Linked DNA regions of Homo sapiens: all the other regions are linked to region 1. Evidence: fine-mapped expression QTL. A gene starts in region 1. Each other region holds a variant in brackets. All regions are shown on one strand. Distances are between the middles of the regions. Region 1 holds the start of DPYSL4 (dihydropyrimidinase like 4). Region 2 overlaps JAKMIP3 (Janus kinase and microtubule interacting protein 3). Region 3 overlaps JAKMIP3 (Janus kinase and microtubule interacting protein 3). Region 4 overlaps STK32C (serine/threonine kinase 32C).

Region 1 (5,142 bases):
CTGGGGACTCCATGGCTGCCCCCTGACTGGGGGCCTTAAGCAGGTTTCAATCCTGGTTTGATGTTTTAAAGAGATCACCTTTGGCTGCTGTGTTAGAAAGTAGCTTGTGACAGGTAACAGTGGGAGCCGGATCATTGCTGGGGTGATTTCTGAGTGAGATGAGGGGCTCTGGGACAGGACTATGGGAAGGGACGGGAGGAGAGTGGATTCCAGAGAGGCTGGGAGTCAGGAGGGCAGGACTTGCTGACCAAGAGGCCATGGGGGTGATGGGGAAGAGATGGGGTGACCTCGGTTCCAGTGCAGCTCGGACGCACTCCCAGTGGGACACAGAGCGTCAGGCTGGTGAGGCCCGCTCTTTGTAGGTCAGCCCTGGCAGCACAGAGCTGTGGCGTTAGACAGGGATTGACTCCAGTGCTTGGCAGTCATAAATCCACTTCTAAGAATCCTACCAGATGGCCGGGAAGCAGAAGATTAGGCAGAAAGTAGGGTGTCACTGATGGGACTCTGCATGACCGTCAGAGGTGAAGATCTGACCTCATTGGAGAATGGGGGAGAGAAACACAAAAAAGGAGTGAAAGGAGGTGGAGAAGGACGCGCCCACGGGCTGGACTCGGCAACGCTTTTCCCTCCACCGTCTGGCGTGCGCCTCAGCACGCCCTGCAACTGACCCGGCAGGACTGACCGTCTGCATTTAACAGGGAGGTCCGGCCGCCTGCTCTGGGTTTCCAGGGCCCACCCATAGGTGGCCAGGGCCCTAGCCTGGGGCTAGAGCCTTCACGCACCGTCAGTCTGAAGCCAAGAGCATTAAACTGAAGTGCACAATTGGTAAAACTCTCAGAATGAGAAGGAGTTCATTATCTAGGAACTCCATTACAGGATTCACTGCTGACATCTAACTGTGGGGCTGTATTTTCAGGATCCCAGTGACTTGTCAACCTCTACCCCATAGTCTACAAACGGTTGGCAGACTATGCCACAGGCCAGACCCAACCCTCTACCTCTCTTCATACAGCCCTAGGCTAAGAATCGTTCTTGTATATTCACTGAAAACAATAACAAGAGTATGTCATGACTCAAAAATTCTATGAAGTTCACACTGCAGCATCCACAGATGAAGTTTTGTTGGAACACAGTGGTGCCCATCGACTTCCTAAATGTCCAGGACTGCTTTCCTGGCAGGGCCAAGCAGCTGAGACAGGAACAGCGTGGTCCGCAAAGCTGACAACATTTACTCTCGGGCTGGTTGTGGAAGAAGTTTTAGACCCTTGGTCTACAGAGCTGTCTGTTCCCAGCCGCTGCACCTCTCCTCCTCCTGCCCAGTCCCAGCTGAGCGCCAGGCTCAGCCCTGACCCGGCACCACCATGCATTTGCAGAGCCTCTGTGGCCGCATCAGGCCCTGGCTGCCTTCCCGGTGCTGTCCCTCTTCTTCACTTTCCACCCCTCCCAGGGGACCCACGCATTTTCAAGGAAGCCCTAGAAAACGCAACCGGGCAGAAGGAGGCTTGAGGAGACGTGTGGTCTGGGCTCTCTGCTCATAGGCGCCCAAGTGTTCAGGCACCCGCACTGAGACTGGGTTTGGAACCCAGAGGAGACGCAGCTGGGGTGTGGGGCTGTGCTCTTCTTACTGCACTCATCCGGATGGAGGTGAAAGTTCCCGGGAAGCAGCTGCCCCTCCGCACTGACATGGTTGCCTGACCTCCCCTGGGAAGGGGTCCTCCTGCCACCCCCAAACTCGACCCCCACATGCCAGCTGACTGGCAAGACCTCCTGCATCAAGACCAGACCCAGCCGGGCAGAACCCTCTGGAGGCAGCAGCCCCTCCCATCTGGAGAGGGGAGGGCTCCTTCCTCGCTCAGAGTCTGGGGGAGTGGAGCCCACAGCCCACGGCTCGAGCTAATGCCAGAGGTCAGACCCCACGGCCCTCCCGCCGAGGCCAAGTCCAGAGTCGGGTCTGGGACCCCATGGACTCCCCCGCCCAGGTCCTGCCGGGTCCCGAAGCCTCCTTCCTCCCACCCCCATCTCCCCCCGCCCGAGCGGGGAGGCTTTGTTTCTGGCAGAGCGGGACCTCCCGCGCCGGTGCGTGTGGGTGTTGGGGAGGGGTCTCTGCTCTCGAAGGTTCAGGGGCTGCCAGGGTTCCCGGCCAGTGGCCCTTGACCGCTCGCTTTCCTTGGAGTCGCTGAACCCAGGTTACTGGAAGGGTTCGGGGCCACCAGGGACTCCGGCCAGAGCGGCCGGGGCTAAATCGCTTTGTCTCGGACAAAGAGCTCCCGACGCAGCGCCAGTGCGTCCAAGGGGCGGGCGACCCACGGGCTGCGCCGGGAACGGCATCTCCCCGCGCCCCGGACCAGCCCGGGCCAACAAAGGGCCGCGTCCGCCCGCCTCGCCACCCGACCGCCGTGGGAGAAAGGAGCCGCTAGCGCTCCGAGGGACAGGCCGCCCGGCCCCGGGTTCTCCCCGGGCGCAGCCGAGGCTCCCGGAAGCCGGCAAGGCCGGGCAAGGCCGGGCAGGGCCCGGCAGGGCCCGGCAGGGCCGGGCAGGGCCGGGCCGGGCCGGGCCTGGGCGCCCCGCTCCTTAAGGGGGTCTGCGCGGCGCTAGCGGGGACTCTCGGACCCTGGGGCGCGAAGGAGCCGAGCAGGGAAGGGCGGGCGCCAGGACAGGGACCAGACGCAAAGGCAGGGACCCCCCACCCACGCACAAGACCAGGAGGGTCCGCCCGGCGTCCAGGCCCCACTCCGGGCGGCGGGCAGGGGGCGCCGGGCGAAGCGGGACCGGGCTCACCGTGATCCGGGGGATGCTTTTCTTGCCCTGGAAGGACATCCTGCTCCTGGGGGTCTCTGGTAGGGGCGGCACAAGCGGGGGCGGGCGGGCGGGCGGGCGGGCGGGGGGACGCGTGAGCCGGGACGCGTGCGTGGGGACGGCGGGAGACAGACTGCGAGCGCGCGGGGCCGCACGGCTCCGTTCCGGTCCCGCCCCCGCTGGGCCCCGCCCCCACCCCGGCTCCGCCCCCGGCAGGCCCCGCCCCCGATAGGGCCCGCCCCAGCCCGAGCCCCGCCTCACCCCGCCCATCAGCCCCGCCCCCGCCCTCAGCCACTCCTTCGCTTTAAAGCCCCCCCAGCGCTGGAACCGCTGCAGGGTCTGATCTCTGCACCCCGGGCCCCCGCGCAGACCCGCGGACGAGCGCTGGGTGGGGATTTCAACCTGCTCCAGCTGATGTGCGCGGGGTTTGCACCCCGGGGAGGCGAGGGAGAGAGTCCGGCCACGTCCTGCCAGGCCCCGCCCGCGCCCCCGCTGCCCTCCAGCGCGGAACCCAGGTCCCAGGAGACGCGAGGCGCCCAAGGCCCCGGGATTCCGAGCCAGTCAACCCCGGGCCGCGACGCTCTGGGAACCACACCCGTCCAGGAAGGCACCTTGGCCAAAGCCGGCTCCTTCGCAGATGACCCGGGCCAGGGTCCGAGCGCCAGGCTGTGACCCCGCGAGGCTGTTCCACGCTGGCCGCGAGAGACGGAGGGCAGGAGGGGCCCGAATAGGACAGAGAGAGAGAGAGAGAGAGACAGAAGGAGGCGCACGCGCTCCCCAGGGACCGGGACGCGGTGGTGGGCGGGACCTCGCGGGGGTGGGGGGTGGTCGCAGGACCCAGAAGGCTCAGGACCTTTACGGATAGGGAGGACCCCGCAGGGGGGAGCGGGGGAGCCCCACGCCCGGCGTCCTCCGGGTGCGAGGGTCTCGGGGAGTCCGAGCCCGGGCCCACGGCCTCTGTCCCGCGGCCACTACCTGCTGGGGGTCCCGGGCCTGGGCCACGCCGGGCTGCCCTCGGGGACTTGCTGCGGCCGTTGAGGGGTCTCCGCGCGCCGCGCAGACTCGCCTCCCAACCCGAGGGCCCGGGCGGCCGCCGCCCAGAGCGTCCAGCGGCAGCGTCTTGCTCTCGAAGGCGTCCTCCACGCAGCGGAACACGCAGCCAAGCTTGGGCCGGGCCAGAGGCCTCGCGGGCTCCTGAGGCTGCCGCGCGGTCACGGCAGGAGCGGGCGACAGAATCCGGTCTCGGAGCCTCCTGTAGCGAGGTCTGCGCGGCAGGTGCACTGGGCGGACCTGGAGGCCGCGCCCTCCCCCCCCGCCTCCTGCCGCCCGGCAGCGCTGCGCGGAGCTGGCTCTGTCCACGTAGCGGGTGCTGAACGCCCCATTCTGGCCCCTGGGTGCTCGCTTAGTCCCGGCCACGCGTGGCTGCTCGCCCTCGGGACACACTGGGCGCTGGGAAGGCCGGGCGGGGAGCGCGCACCGGAGAAACCGCTGTGGGAATCCCGGCCACATTTCCAGGCCCCTTGGGCCGTCCCACGCCAGACAAGAAAGCCCTGACTCCGAAACCCTGGGCGAGTGTGGAGGGCGCGCGGGGGTGGGGTGTACCCGCCCACGCAAACTGCTGCTGATCTCCCTTAAAGCCGAGTTAGAGGCTTGGGGCGAGACAGGAGTGACGGGCGATGCTGTCACTCCATCTGTCATTCTACCCAGCCTGCAGCAGCTGAATTCGAACCCAGAGACTTCAGGCCTTTGCGTTGTTACCGCAGTCCGCATTTCAAAGCCAGAGTTTGGCCACTGAGTCACCATGACCTCGAGTACTGGCGGGGCCCGAGCCAGCAGAGCTAGGTCCAGCAGCTTCCCACCCCTTCGTCCTCCTCTGGGCTCCCCCTCCCCTAAATGATTAATGCAATGTCTGTTACTCACCTGTGTGGGACCGTCCACGGCAAATATCACCAACTGTTCTTATGCACGTGCAGAAGTTCCGTCCCTTTCCTAACTGTCTGATCTCTTCCATGGTTCACATTTGACCAACAGCCACAGGAGGGAGCCTCCCAGGTGGTCGACCGGAGCCAGGTGCTGCCAGGCACCCGACTGCAGAGCTTGCCCTCCAGGTGATCTCGCAGGTGAGAACTGGGGCTTTCCTCCACAGTGGGCGGAAGGCGCGGACTCCGTTTCTGGTGTGCAGAGGCACTGTTCAGAGAATGAACTCAGAAGTGCAGAAATGGCTCATACGGCTTTCAGTTCAAACTTTAATACCTTTGAGGGGACTTTAATCGTCTAAGATTTAAAACATTTTTTATTAAAACTGTACAATAATTTACAAACGAGTAAAAAATTCTCTGGTATATA
Region 2 (5,142 bases), 38 kb after region 1:
TGGGGGCCAGCTGCACTCCTGACTCAGGCAAGAACCTCATCCTGCATGGCTGGGGCCAGGTGCCCTCATCTCTCCTGCCCTGCTCCCTTCTCCCATGGCAGGGCTGGGCAGGCCACAGACCTCTCCCAACACTTTAAGTTGGGGAGGCTGAGCAGGTGGCTTCAGGGTGACTGAGGGAATCTACCCAGATGTGATTAAACCACAAGTTGCATGTGAAGTCAACACTGATTGCACAGCCAGGCTTGAAGGGCCACTGTCAGCCCACTGTCAAGAGCTCCCCAGCATCTCCACAGGTCCCCTGAGCTTAAGCCTGGCCATGAGCCCTCCAGTATCCAACCTCCTCTGTCCCTGGGCTCTGTGACAATGGCCTCAGAGGCTGCATGATGACTGCAGGGCTGTCACACTCAGTGGCACTCTTGGTGGACAGCTATGGGGCTGGGCAGGAACCCTGAAATAGGCCTGGGTGGGGCTGGGTACCCCCAACTCTGCCACTACATCAGCTCTGTGACCCTGGGCAGTGCCTTTGGGGACTCAGCTTCTCCAACTGTGAATCAGAGTTGCCCAATACAGTTCCCAAGACCTCATGATGGGGCTGATACCCAGGACTGGACCCCAGAGATGTCAGGTCCACGGCCACCCTGCTGTGGCTCTTCGGCCACCTATGACCACAGTGGAGCCCCCAGCTCTGAGAGAAGCAGACCCACACCCAGAGCCTCCCTGCTGAAAGTACCCCTGCCCTGTGCCTCACTGCTCCCCAGGGGCTGGGCAGGCAAGGGGAGAAGGGAGTCCTCGGATGCAGAGCACTGGATGGAGGAAGTGGAAGGTCAATGAAGGTAGGATGAGGGATGGATAGATGGATGGATGGAGGGAGGGGATGTGGATAGGTGGAAGGATAAAGGATGAAGGATGGAAAGATGGATAAATAGCTTATGGAGGATGGATGAATGAATGAATGATGGAGGATGCATAGATAAATTATGGAGGGTGGATGGATTGATGGATTTTGGAGAATGGATGAATGAATGGAGGATGAAGGAAGGATGGATGGAGAATGAATAGATGGATTATGGAGGATGAATGGGAGATGGATGGATGGGTGAAAGGTTAATGGGTAGAGGATGGTAGATGGAGAAGGAATGGATGGAGGATGGTGGATAGAGGACAGATGGAGGATGGAGAATGAATGGATTAGGGATGATGGATGATAGATAGATGGAGGATGGATGGACAGATTGTGGATGATGGATAAATGGATGGATTAAGGATGATGGATGAAGGATAGATGAAGGATGAAGGATGGATAGATGGATTATGGAGGACGGATAAATGAATTGTGGAGGACAGATAGATGGATTATGGAGGATGGATAAATGAATTGTGGAGGACGGATACATGGATTATGGAGGACGGATACATGGATTATGGAGGACGGATAGATGGATTATGGAGGACGGATAGATGGATTATGGAGGACGGATAAATGAATTGTGGAGGATGGATACATGGATTATGGAGGATGGATGGATGGATTACACAGGATAGATAGATGGATGGATATAAGACAGAGCATGAATGAAGGGCTAGGTAGATGGTGCATTGATGGGGAATAAATGGATGGAGAGCAGAGGATTAGTAATGGGCGGATGAAAATTGGGATGAAGAGGTGCATTATTTTGCCCACTCAGTAATTAACATTCTTTCAAGGAGTTTGCTATAGAAATTGGAACTCTGCCCCAAATGAAATTTAGGAGTTATCTATAGAGTCTGCTTTTCCCCCAAGCCAAGGAAGTGGAACCCCTAAGGGTCTTGGTTTGTCTAAGAGCAACAGCCCCCTATCCTCATGGCAAGTATGGAAGGGCTGAGAGATCCCAGAAGCTGGGCAATGTGATGGGAAGTGCCATCAGCTGGAAGAACCAGGTGTGCACAGCAGAGGCCCCAGTGGGCCCTGGAGCAGTGTGAGGAAGGCTCCGATTCTGAGCAGGCTCTGGGCCTAGTGGAGGGTCTCAGGCAGGGTGGCCCATGGCAGGGCTGTGGGAGGCTGGCAGGGCCTCCTGGACCCCAGAGGGGCTGGGCTGGGGGTTGTGGGTGTAAGAGGCATGCACAAGCCAGGAGAGCGACATACACTTACGGCGTTATCGCCCAGGATGTCCAGCTTCTTCATCAGCTCC[G/A]CAACCACAATGTCCTAAGGCACAGAGGACAGGTAGGGGTGAGTGGCCACGGGGTGGGCAGAGGGGGTGGGGAAGGACAGGGCAGGGAAGGGCGGAGGGGAGGTGGTGGGGGTGGGGGAGGGGGAGGGGAGGGGCAGGGGTGAGGTAGGGCAGGGTGGGGGCAGGGGTGAGGTAGGGCGGGGTGGGGGCAGGGGTGAGGTAGGGTGGGGTGGGGGCAGGGGTGAGGTAGGGCGGGGTGGGGGCAGGGGTGAGGTGGGGCAGGGGTGAGGTGGGGGGGTAGGGGTAGGGTGGGGGCAGGGAGGGGGTGAGGTGGGGCAGGGAGGGGGTGGGGCGGGGGTGGAGAGGGTGGGGCGGGGGCGGAGGGGGTGGGGCGGGGGCGGAGGGGGGTGGGGCGGGGGCGGAGGGGGGTGGGGCGGGGGCGGAGAGGGGGTGGGGCGGGGGATGGGTGAGGTGGGGGCGGAGTGGGCAGGAGGGGCGGGACTCACCGTCACACCTTCGGCCTCGCAGTACACCTGGAGGGGGCTCTTCCCGTCCACGAAGGGCGTGTGGTGGAAGCTGATGGCGGGTGACTTCCTCTCCCTCTCCTAGGACAGAGGGACAGAAGGGTGAGCCGCTCCCCTCCCATCCCTTCCCTCTAAGAGGACTGTGCTGGGGCCTGAGGAACACGGGCCAAGACCATGGAACCAGGGATCAACACAGCATTTATGAAAACCAAACCGCAGCGGCAGCAGTGGTGGCAGAATCTGCACTGGACCTGGACCTGCCCACAAGGACTGCCCCTGTATATTCGCTGACCCCAGATGTGCCGGGCAGAGTTCATCACACTCTGGCCACGTGGCCTGGGCAGTCCCACCCTGAGCCCACGGGCACATCCCTCAGTGAATCCCAGGGGCTATGGGGAGGATCAGGGGAGGGGCTGCAGGTTGCATCCCCTTCAGGTCTGACCAGAGGAGCCTCTGGAGAACACAGGCTGGCAGTGCTGCCACTGTCCCCACAGGCAGGCCCACGTGGCCGAGGTCGTCCACACATGGAGTGACCACACAGCTGCCCTGTCCTCCGGCAGTGGACGGGCAGACTCTTAAGAGGCGGCTCCAGCTGGACTGTGAGGCTCCAGGTGCTGGCCTGAGACGGAGGCCTCGGGGCTGTGTGTGGTGCTCGGCAGGGGCGGCCCCTGTGTGGGCCACTTCCTCCCAGCCCCACAGGTGGACCACCCTTGCCGTGAAACAATCACAGCGACGTGGCTGCCCACACCCAGCCTGAGCTGCCCGTGGGATTCCCCTCCTCCCTCCTCCTGTGCAGGTCATGGCAGAGGACACAGGGCCAGGGATGGCAGGGCACAGGCAAAGGGCTCCCAGTCACCGCGTGGCCCCCACTGTCCTCACTCAGGGGCAAGAAACAAACGTCTGCCGACGGCGGAGGCCTGGACAGAGCCCCACACCAGCTGCAGCAGGGCCACGGGGGCGGATGGAGGACGGGCGGATGGAGGACGGACGTGCCGGCTCCTTGGGGGTGGATGGAGGACGGGCGGATGGAGGACGGGCAGATGGAGGACGGACGTGCCAGCTCCTCACCCCACAGGTCTGGAGCAGATGCTGCACTGTCACCCGTCGTGCTTTTGTTTTGTTTTCCCTGCATGACACTGAGCGCCACGGGCCATTTCCCCCATATTTACACGTGCTTTGGGCGGCTGGCCTCATCCTTCGTATGAAGAGGTGGTCCCTGCCTGACACTGAGCTCCATGGCCCATGTTCCCCATTGGATGTTTGGACGGCCGGTATGAAGAGGTGGCGGTTTACGGCCATTTGCCTCTTTCCTCCCTGACGCAGCCTTTTGGGTTCATGTTCATGTTCATGTTCATGTTCAGGGCTTTGTGTGGGTTAGGAAGGCTGAGGACTAGATCCCTGACACAGCCACAGGCCACAGTGCTGGCCATCCACTCAGCTACCTCAAGCTCCAGGATCCTGAACTCCAGCAGCTCGTTTTGGTCTCTGGCGTCCTGCACCTCGTGTCTGAGCCGAGCCTCTTCCGTCTCCATTTGTTTGATCTGCAACATAAAAGATGCATGAGGTGAGGGGTCTGGTTCTCTCTCACCAGAGGTCTTGGGAGGTCAACTCCAGGCTGACGGGACAGCTGCTGGCTGCCGGGGAGGCCGGCTGGCCTGGTACCCAGCCCTGGAAGCGCCTCACAGCCCTCGGTATGTTTGGGTTTGTCCTAGTGAGATAGCCTAGCCATCCGGTGGTGGGTGGGGCTGGGCAGGCAGCACCGCATACCACAAGCCAGGAGCCTGGCGATCATATCGGGGCCCTGAGCTTGGGTGGCCCCTGGACAGGGATGTGGAAGGGAGGCCGTCAAGGATAAACGTCTCCAGCAGGGGCTGTACATCACAAGCCAGGAGCACGGGGGCCTTAGCGGGGCTCTGAGCTAGGATGAGGAAGGGAGGCCGTGGAGGGTAAATGTCCCAGGTGGCTCCCGGGTGCCCCTTGGAGCCCAGGCTGTGCCCAATGGAAGGAGCGGGTACCACGGCTGCCTGGCCACCGGAATTCACTTGGCTAATTAAGGAGCTGTTTAAACGGAACCAGTTACGAGTAAACCGGATGCAGGAGTCCCCCACCCCTTCCAAAGGGTCAAGTGACACGGCCCACGGCATGTGTCCTCAGCAGCCTCATGAGGGCAGGGGCCACCAGGGGCAGACAGCTGTGTCCATCCCCTGAAGCTGAGCTCCAGGGACTGAGGGACCTGCTCTGATGCTCAGGGGACCAAGATAAACTCAGAAGCATTGCATCCTTGGAGTGAGCCGGCTCAGTGGGAGCTGGACCCCCTTGCAGGGCCAGCTGTGTACTGCTGCACAGTGGGCCTGCCGTGGAACACCTGCAGGGCCAGGAATGTGATCTGCACCCAGTGTAGCCAGAAAAAAGCATGGCTCCAAGTGTGCACATGCGCATGTGTGTACGTGCACAAGCATTTCCATGTGCGT
Region 3 (5,142 bases), 44 kb after region 1:
TCAGCCCTCGCTCCATCCTTCAGCCCCGCAGGGACCACTGCAACCCCCAGGAGCATAGAGCGAGTCCTGCCAGGGCCTCCAGGGGTTCGGGGCTCACCTTTTCCACAAGCTCTTGATTTCTCCGGTACAGTGCCTGCTTCTCTTCAATCCACTTCATATCCTTGCAAATGGAATTGAAAGAAATAAAGACACTGAGGGAGGAACTCATAAACCAACGTTTAAATCGTGATGTGGCAGAACACCAAAGACCAGTCTGGCCAGCGTGGCAAAGCCCCGTCTCTACAAAAAATACAAAAATTAGCCGGGCGTGGTGGCACATGCCTGTGGTCCCAGCTACTCAGGAGGCTGAGGTGGGAGGATGGCTTGAGCCCAGGAGGTCAAGGCTGTAGAAAGTTATGATCGCACCACTGAAGCTTGTCTTTAGGTACAGCCAAATACCTCCCACCCACGTGTGCCCCCACGCCCGTGCAGATGGCTGCAGGCTCACCTGCCCCTGCTCCGCCAGGGCCTTCTCCAGGTCCTCTATCCGCGCCTGTGCCCTCTGCACTTCGGCTTGTAGCTGCTCACGGGTCTGTAGGACGGGAGGAAAGATACATCAAATTTTCTCTAAAAGCTGGGACAGACAGCACACACACTCGTGGGACGTCAGAAGGGTCTGTCTTTTGGTTCAGTTCATTGAGAAGTGACTGTTCGCCCTTCCTTTGGAAGAGATGCTTTCTAAGAGAGGGAGAACTGTTTTGTTTTTTTTTGAGACAGGGTTTGGCTCTGTCATCCAGACTGGAGCTCAGTGGCACAATCTTGGCTCACTGTAACCTCCGCCTCCCGAGCTCAAGTGATCCTCCCACCTCACCATCCTGAGTAACTGGGACCACAGGTATGCACCACCACACCCCACTAATTTTTGTATTTTTTGTAGAGACGGGGTTTCACCATGTTGCCCAGGCTGGTATCAAACTCCTGAGTTCGAGCAACCCACTTGCCTCAGCCTCCCAAAGTGCTGGGATTACAGGAGTGAGCCACTGCGCCCAGCCCTGGAGGGAGAACTTTAAGGCTTATTTGAAGCAAGAGATCTCACTTAGATTCTAAGGGGAAATCCTGCAGGTTGATTTTGAGAGCCTGTTAGGAGAAATCTTTGTTTACAGGATGACACAGCCAATGAGGATGACTGAGGCCTAGCGTGTGCTCAGCCCTGCCAGGTGCCGGCCAGAGGGCTTTGTTCGAGGGACTCTCCACATGGACCCGCTGGAAGCCCCGGGTGGTGCCGCTGCCTGTACTGGAGCTGCCCCTCTGGAAGCCCCGGGTGGTGTGGCTGCCTGTGCGGGAGCTGCCTCAGCCCAGGGCTCACTGCCTTCCTGAATTCTGTGTTCCTTAACTGACTCCCAGAGCCCGCCCCACATCTACAGGAAAAGCCCTGGCGCTTCCCCCGTCCGCATCCTGGTTTGTGAAGTCCCTCCCGAGTGCCACCGAGGCTTCTAGCCGAGGTCTGAGCCACCTCCCTTAATTCACTTTGCTGTGGTGGCTCCGAACCATGGGGCCACAGTGGCTCCTGCTCTCTCTGGGGATAGCTTCCAAGGGAGAGGTGCGTTTCGGGACAGGACGCAGGGTCAGAGGATCCATCAGCCGGGGTGGGGGGTGGGCGAAGGCGTGACCTGTGGTGCCCGCCCCCGAGTGCTTGGTCCCAGCTCCCTGCCCCCAGGCCGTCCTGGGCTCCTCCCATCACCCCAGCCTCTTCCCTCCCTTAAGGGGTCACAATCGTGGATGTGAGCCCTTGGGTTGGAGAATGCTTAGCAGAGAGGGAATTCCAGTTAGTCCTAACCCTGTTTCCGGACAGGGAAACGGAGCCCACAGAGGGCTGTGGGCCCCCTGCAGCCTCAGGACCGTGGCAGGGATGGGCCCACGTCCATGTCTTCAGACGCCTGTCCTCTCCTGCCCCCTTCCTTATCCTGAGGCTTCCTCGATTTCCACAGTGAGGAGTGACATTTCCAATTATAATACAGAATCAGACTGTGGGATGCCGGCTAGTCTATTTTCTTCATTAATCTTTTCTGTATCTTC[T/C]AGTTTTTAAAATAACCATGCAGCACTTCTCGGCATCAGATTTTCCTCTGATTCTAAATGACATTAAACTTTTTTTTACATGCAGTTTGGACATTTTTACTCTCTAAGCAAAGCTTCTGAGTTCTTTGCTTCCATGTGGCCCCCGAGCAAATGTTTCTCTGGCACCCGACAGGAAAAAGGGAAGACAGGATGCTTTCTCCAGCTCCTCCAGCTCCTGGCGAGCTTGGCCAGGAGGATGCGGCTGTTGCCCCGCCCCCGCTGTGAGGGAGAAAGGCTGGGCCCATGAGGCTCTGGGATGTCTCGGGGCTGCTGTGCTTTATGATGCTCTGAACCGAGGCCTTGACTTTTTCCTTTCTCCAAGGGTCATGCAAAAATTAAGTCAAAGTGAAAGAGGCGATATTTAAAGTCCCCAGTTACGGAGACAAATCTCTCCGAGCCTGAGGAGGGGACGCCCCCTCCAAGGCCAGCCCCCCCCACCCCGACTCAGGACAGGAGGAGGGCACAGAGGGGTGGAGCTCTCTCTTAGTTTTCACAACAGACGTCCCCAATGAGGTGCCAGGAAGGCAGGAGGGAAACCAGCCACGTCACCAGGGCGGTCTGGGTGGACAGAGGATGAGGCTGGCGGCTCCCTGGGGCACTAGCGTGGACCACGCTGGGGATGCTCTGTGGACACTCTCCCCTCGCCCCAAGAGGTCCGTCCCCCACCCAGCTCAGCCACCCTAAGTTGCAGAATTGCCAGACACTGGCATCTCTGGCCCTGCAGGGTGGTTTTGGGGTGGGGAGGCCAACGGGAACCCCACACCCCACAGCTGCCTGCTCTGGAGAACCCCTCAGCTCCCCCGGAAAGCAGCCCGTCTCGCTGTGAGGGGTACCAGGTGCAGGTCCTCCAGCGGCTTCCCCTCCGAGCCTCAGTAAGGGAGGGTGGGGCGGCAAGAGGACCCCCGACCCATGGCCCACGCTCTCCCCACGAGGCCTGGTGCCTGCACTGCCCTCCACGGCCCGCAGAGGGCACCCGCCAGCCACACTGAGGCCTTTCCTGGGGGACGACGCTAAGGTGAGCCAGGGAAGTGGGCGGAGGGACACGGCTGCTGGGGTGCTGCCCAGTGGGGAGGCCGGGGGAGAGGGGCCGGGGCCGGGGCCGGGGCAGGCACAGCCTGTGTGAGCTCAGCCTTTGAGGATGAATGACCTCCACAAGTTTCAACACCGAGCTCGATGCTGCCACGGGCCATCGCCATGCTGCCAAGAGTGGAAGAGGTGGTCTGGAAGGAGGCCCACCCTGGGCGCTGTGGGCCCCTGCCACCACTACCACCCCGCCTCCCCCAGGACCCTTACTCACACCTGTGCCTGGCACCGCTCTGGGCCAGTCCCTCCCACCTGGGCCAACTCCCAGCACCGGGATCCCCAATCCCTGGTTTTGATCGGCTTCCATGGGCACCACCAGGACTGCAGGCAAGGGCAGGAGAGGAGGGGCCCGGGCCCAGGAGGGCTAGTGAGGGGGGTGTCCCAGCCCAGGCCACGGGGTCAAGCGGGAAGGCACGAGGGGGGCCGGAACGCGCGGTGGAAGTCACGTAGACCTTAACTTCTCGCTCTGCGTCCAGCGTCCCTCCAACCTGCTCCTGCAACAAAGCGTAGGCACGCTGCAGGGCCTGGTACTCCATGGTCAGCTGCCGGAACCTCAGCTCCGTCTCCTCCTTGGCCATGCCCTGGAGAGACACGGATGCCACACACGCACAGAGACACAGTGTCAGTAGCCAGCACCTCCTCCGATGGCGGGGCCCCGGGGCTTCCCTTCTCCCCAGATATCAAATGGTGTATGGGGGGGTCTCTCTAGCAGCATGAGGGAGGGGACCTGCTCCAGTGTGCAGGGAGGGGCGGCTGCCTGGGGACTCAGTGCTGTTTGGAGAAAGGTTTCCCTGGGGAGGGGAGCACCGAGCCCTGGGGTGGGAGCTGAGTCGGCTGCACGGCTGAGGACAGGGTGAGCCTGCTGGGCTGGTGGCCATGGCCAGGGGCTCAGCTGGGGCTCCTGCTTGCTAGCCAGGCTGCCCTGACCCAGCAGACCCTCTGTTACCAACCAGGCCTGCACACGCTCTGCTCTGCTGAAACACGTCCTGGGAAGAAAGCTGGGCTTTGTGAAGGGGGTAAAGTACCCCAGGCAGCACGTCTCCTCCCAGGTGCACTCTTGCAGGCTCACCCTGCTAGCTGCAGTGCCCCCCGTCACCCCAGGGAGAAGACAGGTGAGCCTGCTGCTGCCTTCAAAGGGTCCCGGTGGACCCCCGGGGCTGGAAGGGTTGGCCACGTCTAGGAGTGACTGAGCCCAGAAGCCTTGGCCTGGCCCAGTTCCCCTGCCCAACCCTGCACCTGAGGCTGTGAGAGGATGTCTTAGATCCCTCAACAGGTCTATGGCCATTGGGCCACCCTCCAGGGTCTGCCACGGGAGGCCCAATCCTTGGCTGTGCCATTGACTGCAGACCCCACTCCTTGTCCCACAGCCACAGGGTCTGGGTCCCACAACACCAAGCCCCGACCTGGTGCTGAAATGGCTGCCTGCGCCTGAGGGTAGCCGTCCTTCTGGAAGAAGGGGCTGGTGGGCAGACACACCTGTGCTGTTATCAGAAAGAAAACTCCTGCTCAACACCCCTCACCCTAATGTGCTCTTGGCACTGAGACCAAACTCCCTGATGAGTGGTTCAGACCCTCCTGGGGAGGCCCCTTAGGAAGGGAGAGCTCACCGTACCCCTATGCAGAAGGGGCGTAGGCTCAGTGGCAGAAGGAGGCATGGTTTGGCCTTCATGGGAGCAAGAGCGGGCCTCAGCCCACACCCCAAGCCATGTCATGGGAGCTTCTCACCGTGCCCGAGTCAGCTATCAGCGGGTCAGTGCCAGTGAGGGCCGCGAAGGGCTTCCCCGTGAAAAGCCGGCAGCCCATGCCCAGCCAAGCCCAGGACCCGGCAGGAGACCCTCGTTACCTCCTCCAAGCCCAGGACCCGGCAGGAGACCCTCGTTACCTCCTCCAAGCCCAGGACCCGGCAGGAGACCCTCGTTACCTCCTCCAAGTCATCGTCCGGGGTGCACGGGGTCTGGTCCGTCC
Region 4 (5,142 bases), 80 kb before region 1:
ACCAGGCATCAGCTTGTAAACTCTGCAGGGTTCTCAAGAGACCATGAAAGCAGTCAGGGGAGGGCTCAGGTCGTCAGGCGTGGAGGACAGGGGGCCTGGCTCAGGCATCCGGGGCCCACGTGGCTGGGAGGCCACCATTGGGTGGGTGTCAGCTATTATGGCCGTGGCAGGCTAGGGACTCTCACTGAACGCCTCCTCCCAACACCAACCTCTCAGGCTTGGGAGAACTGCCCCCACTGTGCCGCTGGAGTCAGCGCTCCCACAGGCATTCGGGGGAGGCCAGGGCTGAAGGGGACCCCAGGGCCCACCTCCACCTTTTGCAAGGCGAGGCAAGGGTCTGGAATGCTCCCAGGTGGATGTGGTTGGGCGACAGCCTGGGGTCTGTCTCATAAGCTCAGGTTTGGAAAATAAGACCATCCACTAGCTGTTAGCCCCGAGCAGCCTTCCTGCCCTTGGGGAAAATCAATCCATCAGCAGCCAGCCCAGAGGCGCTGGCTCTTAGCAGAGCAGTGATGGTGATAAATGGCTGTGAGGCTGCAGCTTGCTGCCACACACTTTCCCCAGGTCCTCCTGCAGCAGCCAGCAGGGCTGGGAGGCAGCCCTGAGCTCAGGGGAAGATCCGGTGCGGCCAGTGGAATCCAGGCTGCATCTCAGTCCTGCAGCTCAGCAGCAGATTTTCCAGGCTCCAGGCACCATGTGTCGGTCAGATGAGGCCAGGCACGTAATCAGCTCACTTGAAGAGACCCTGTGCAGCACCCTGTGCATACCACCGTGTGCACACACATGCACGGAGACACAGACACATGCACAGAGCTGCACCCACAGGCACATGCATGCACACACAGACACACACACGATGTGACACATGCACACACGATGCAACGTGAACCAACAGACACGTGCATGTACACACGCAGGCACACACACACACGATGTGACGCACGCAGGCACAGCTGCACCTGCATACACATGCATGCACACACCGACACACACACACGATGTGGGACATGCGTGCACACAGGCATAGAGCTGAACCTGCATACACAGGCATGCACACACACCGACACACACACACACACGATGTGAGACATGCATGCACACAGGCATAGAGCTGAACCTGCATGCACATGCATGCACACACACCGACACACATACACACGATGTGGGACATGCATGCACACAGGCATAGAGCTGCACCTGCATACACATGCATGCACACACACCGACACACACACACACGATGTGGGACATGGATGCACACAGACAGGCATAGAGCTGAACCTGCATACACAGGCATGCACACACACTGACACACACACACACGATGTGAGACATGCATGCGCACAGACAGGCATAGAGCTGAACCTGCATACACATGCATGCACACACACCGACACACACACACACAATGTGGGACATGCATGCACACAGGCATAGAGCTGAACCTGCATACACATGCATGTACACACGCAGGCACACACACACACACACACACAATGTGACGCATGCACACAGGCACAGCTGCACCTGCATACACAGGCATGCACACACACCGACACACACACACGATGTGGGACATGCATGCACACAGGCATAGAGCTGCACCTGCATACACATGCATGCACACACACTGACACACACACGATGTGGGACATGCATGCACACAGACAGGCATAGAGCTGAACCCGCATACACATGCATGCACACACACCGACACACATACACAATGTGAGAGACATGCATGCACACAGGCATAGAGCTGAACCTGCATACACATGCATGCACACACACCGACACACACACACACACACGATGTGGGACATGCATGCACACAGGCATAGAGCTGAACCTGCATACACATGCATGCACACACACCGACACACACACACACAATGTGACGCATGCACGCAGGCACAGCTGCACCTGCATACACAGGCATGCACACACACCGACACACACACACACGACGTGGGACATGTGGGCACACAGACAGGCATAGAGCCGAACATGCATACACATGCATGCACACACACCGACACACACACACACACACGATGTGGGACATGCATGCACACAGACAGGCATAGAGCTGAACCTGCATGCATATGCATGCACACGCACTGACACACACACACACGATGTGGGACATGCATGCACACAGACAGGCATAGAGCTGAACCTGCATACACATGCATGCACACGCACTGACACACACACACACGATGTGGGACATGCATGCACACAGGCATAGAGCTGAACCTGCATGCACATGCATGCACACGCACCGACACACACACACACGATGTGGGACATGCATGCACATAGACATAGAGCTGAACCTGCATGCACATGCATGCACACACACCGACACACACACACATGATGTGGGACATGCATGCACACAGACAGGCATAGAGCTGAACATGCATACACATGCATGCACATGCACTGACACACACACGATGTGGGACTTGCATGCACACAGGCATAGAGCTGAACATGCATGCACACACACTGACACACACACGATGTGGGACATGCATGCACACAGACAGGCATAGAGCTGAACCCACATACACATGCATGCACACGCACTGACACACATGCACAGAACTGTAGCCCCAGAAACATACATGCACATGCATACAGACACACATGCACATTCACATGTGCAGAGCTACACCCACAGGCACACGCACACATAGGTGTGATCTGAGGTGTATTCCAGGCCTCCAGAATACAAGTGAATGCTGGGCTGTGCAGACTTCTCGCATTTTGGCCAGGTTTCAAGGGACCCCAAAAGGAGACCTGCACCCCACACTGGGCTTGCTGCTTCTAAAGGGGCTGCTACTGCAGCTGGCTCACTGCCTGGACTGAGCCCAGGGCCCACGTGTCACAGGTCAGAGAAACCATGCGGGGAGCAGGGCCGGGGAAGCCTGAGGACAGGCTGGAAGGGGCTGCTCCGGCTTCTGACCCAGCTTTGGGTCTCCCCACTGCAGCGGGGTGGGCGGGGGCTGCCCGCTCAGTGACGGCCGAGCTCCCAACAC[T/A]CACGGTGGTTGTTGGGGTTGGAGCTGCAGTTCCTCTGCGGCCTCGTCCGCGCAGCCCTCCCCACCCCCAGTGTCCATTGTCACTCCATGCCTCAAGGCTGGCTGAGAAGTCCTGTTGTTCTGACCTCGAGCTGCCCCCAGGTCCTGCTTGTGTGATGCTCTCCTTGGAGTCCCCCCGCCCCACCGGTGGAGCCCCCTCCAGTGCCCTCCTCCCCGAGAGCATTTGTGATCCACTCCTTCCACCCCATGGAGCTAGCCTCCCTTGCCCAGCGCCTCCCCCACCCACGCCCGCGTTCCTTCCTCCCCTCCAGCCCTGGCTCGTTCCTCCCCCAGGGCTCGGGGTTGTCCTGGAGACAAATTGAGGGCTCCTTGGCGTGGGCAGGCCATGTAACCTCAGTGAGCCTCAGTTTCCTGCTGCCAAAGGTAAACACCCATTTCCTGAAATTCAGATAAGATGCCTAAAACGCTTCCACTACAGAATGTCCCTGATCTAGATGATCTATTTATTTGTATTGAGGTATAATTACAGTCAAGGGCACAGATGTGAGTATGCAGATTGATGTTTTGACAGATGGGCACACCTGTGTAACCAAGACCCCCCATGGAGACAGAGAACGTTGTCCTCCTTCTGGAAAGTTCTCTGGGCTCTTTTCCAAGCATCCCCTTCCTACCCCCAGAGACAAACCTGTGCTTCTCACTGTGGATCCGTCCAGCCTGTTCTTGAACTCACACAAACAGAATCGCACGACGCGCTCTTGTAAACCTGGCTTCTTTCCCTCAATGTAACACCTTTGAGATTCATCCACGTGGCTATGGATCGGGAGTTTGTTCCTTTAAAAGAAGTCCCCTAGTGGTATTCCATCGTATGGATATAACATAATTTCTTTATTCATTATCCTCTTGATGGACGTTTGGGTTATTTCCAGTATTTGACTGTTGTAAGGCAGCAAAGCACATTCTTGGGTAGACGTCTGTTTCATTCCTTTTGTGTAAATAGCTAGGAATGGAATTGCCGGGTGGCACAGCAAGTGTATGTTTAACTAAGATGCTGCCTGAGTTTCCCAAGCGGCCGTGCACGGCACCCCCTAACCCCTAGCATGTGGGTCAAGGTGCCCGGTGTCCTTGCCAGGCCTCGCTGCTGTCCCTCTCCCTGGCTGTCCGGGGGGATGGAGGGGGCCCGCGTTGGGTTTTCCTTGTGTTTCCGTGGCGACTAAGGACAGCCTCTCTCCTGTGCTCATTGGCCTTCGGGAGCTTCTCGTCTGTGAAGCATCTGCCTGGGCCTCTTGCCCATCTTTAATGTGCTGCTTGCCATTTATTACTGCCTTGTGTGTGCCCTGGCTGCCTGCGGCTGAATCCTGACCCAGAGCCTTCAGCAGGAAGGAAAGACATTGTCCCGAGCCATGAAAGCGAGAGGCCTCCCAGGGCTGTGCGGGGCTGATGGGCCTGCCCTCCGTCTCTCTGCACCGTGTCCTCTCCTCACACCCAGGCAGGGCCCCAGAGTGCAGTGAGGACCCCACAGGCTCCTCCAGGCTGTGTGTTGCCCTTGCAGCTCTGGTGGTCGCTTCTGCCCTAGTTCCAGAAGCCCAGGACTGGCTCTTCCTGGACACCCTCGCTGTGATGGGCCAGGCCTGGGCTGAGTGTGGCAGGGAGGAGCAGGGGCTGTCATCGAAGGAGAAGAGCCAGTGCCCAGCAGAGTGTCCCCCGGGTGGCTGCAGAGCCCACCTCGCCGCCCTTGCGGCACCCCCAGAGCCACCTCGCTGCCCTGGCAGCTCCCCCAGAGCCCACCTCACTGCCCTTGCGGCTCCCCCAGAGCCACCTCGCCGCCCTGGCAGCTCCCCCAGAGCCCACCTCACTGCCCTTGCGGCACCCCCAGAGCCCACCTCACCGCCCTTGAGGCACCCCCAGAGCCCACCTCACCGCCCTTGCGGCCATGTCTGCTGCTCGCACCTTCTACTGTTCTCATGTTGCAGCAGGTCAGGAAGATGTGTGGCTGTCCTGAATCCTCTGACATCAGGCGGAGTATAAATAAAATACGGGTATGATGGATGAGGCTTGAACTTTTGTGAATTTAACATAGTTTAACGTCTTTCCTAAA

Evidence for each region.
Region 2: its variant is fine-mapped to the expression of DPYSL4 in whole blood (TOPMed, PIP above 0.99).
Region 3: its variant is fine-mapped to the expression of DPYSL4 in whole blood (INTERVAL, PIP above 0.99).
Region 4: its variant is fine-mapped to the expression of DPYSL4 in esophagus mucosa (GTEx, PIP above 0.99).

The regions. Positions count from the first base shown.
Region 1 is chr10:132,184,739-132,189,880 of GRCh38, reverse strand. DPYSL4 (dihydropyrimidinase like 4) reads right to left here and starts at 2,933. Exons shown (of 14, transcript NM_006426.3): 1 at 2,779-2,933. The coding sequence starts at 2,817. JAKMIP3 (Janus kinase and microtubule interacting protein 3) reads right to left here. Exons shown (of 24, transcript NM_001323087.2): 24 at 5,023-5,142. It overlaps JAKMIP3-AS1 (JAKMIP3 antisense RNA 1), which reads left to right and starts at 3,129. Exons shown (of 4, transcript NR_184044.1): 1 at 3,129-4,916. RefSeq lists an enhancer at 1,713-2,214.
Region 2 is chr10:132,147,022-132,152,163 of GRCh38, reverse strand. It overlaps JAKMIP3 (Janus kinase and microtubule interacting protein 3), which reads right to left. Exons shown (of 24, transcript NM_001323087.2): 14 at 4,114-4,212; 15 at 2,654-2,752; 16 at 2,123-2,182. Among named protein-coding and RNA genes, the nearest start is that of JAKMIP3-AS1, 37 kb to the left of the region's middle. RefSeq lists an enhancer at 3,874-4,836. The variant G/A (reference allele first, on the strand shown) is at 2,169.
Region 3 is chr10:132,140,536-132,145,677 of GRCh38, reverse strand. It overlaps JAKMIP3 (Janus kinase and microtubule interacting protein 3), which reads right to left. Exons shown (of 24, transcript NM_001323087.2): 10 at 5,099-5,142; 11 at 3,630-3,758; 12 at 488-571; 13 at 98-160. Among named protein-coding and RNA genes, the nearest start is that of JAKMIP3-AS1, 44 kb to the left of the region's middle. RefSeq lists enhancers at 2,336-3,182, 3,183-4,030. The variant T/C (reference allele first, on the strand shown) is at 2,056.
Region 4 is chr10:132,264,894-132,270,035 of GRCh38, reverse strand. The region is part of intron 1 of STK32C (serine/threonine kinase 32C); the gene reads left to right. Among named protein-coding and RNA genes, the nearest start is that of STK32C, 40 kb to the left of the region's middle. RefSeq lists an enhancer at 4,997-5,142. The variant T/A (reference allele first, on the strand shown) is at 3,048.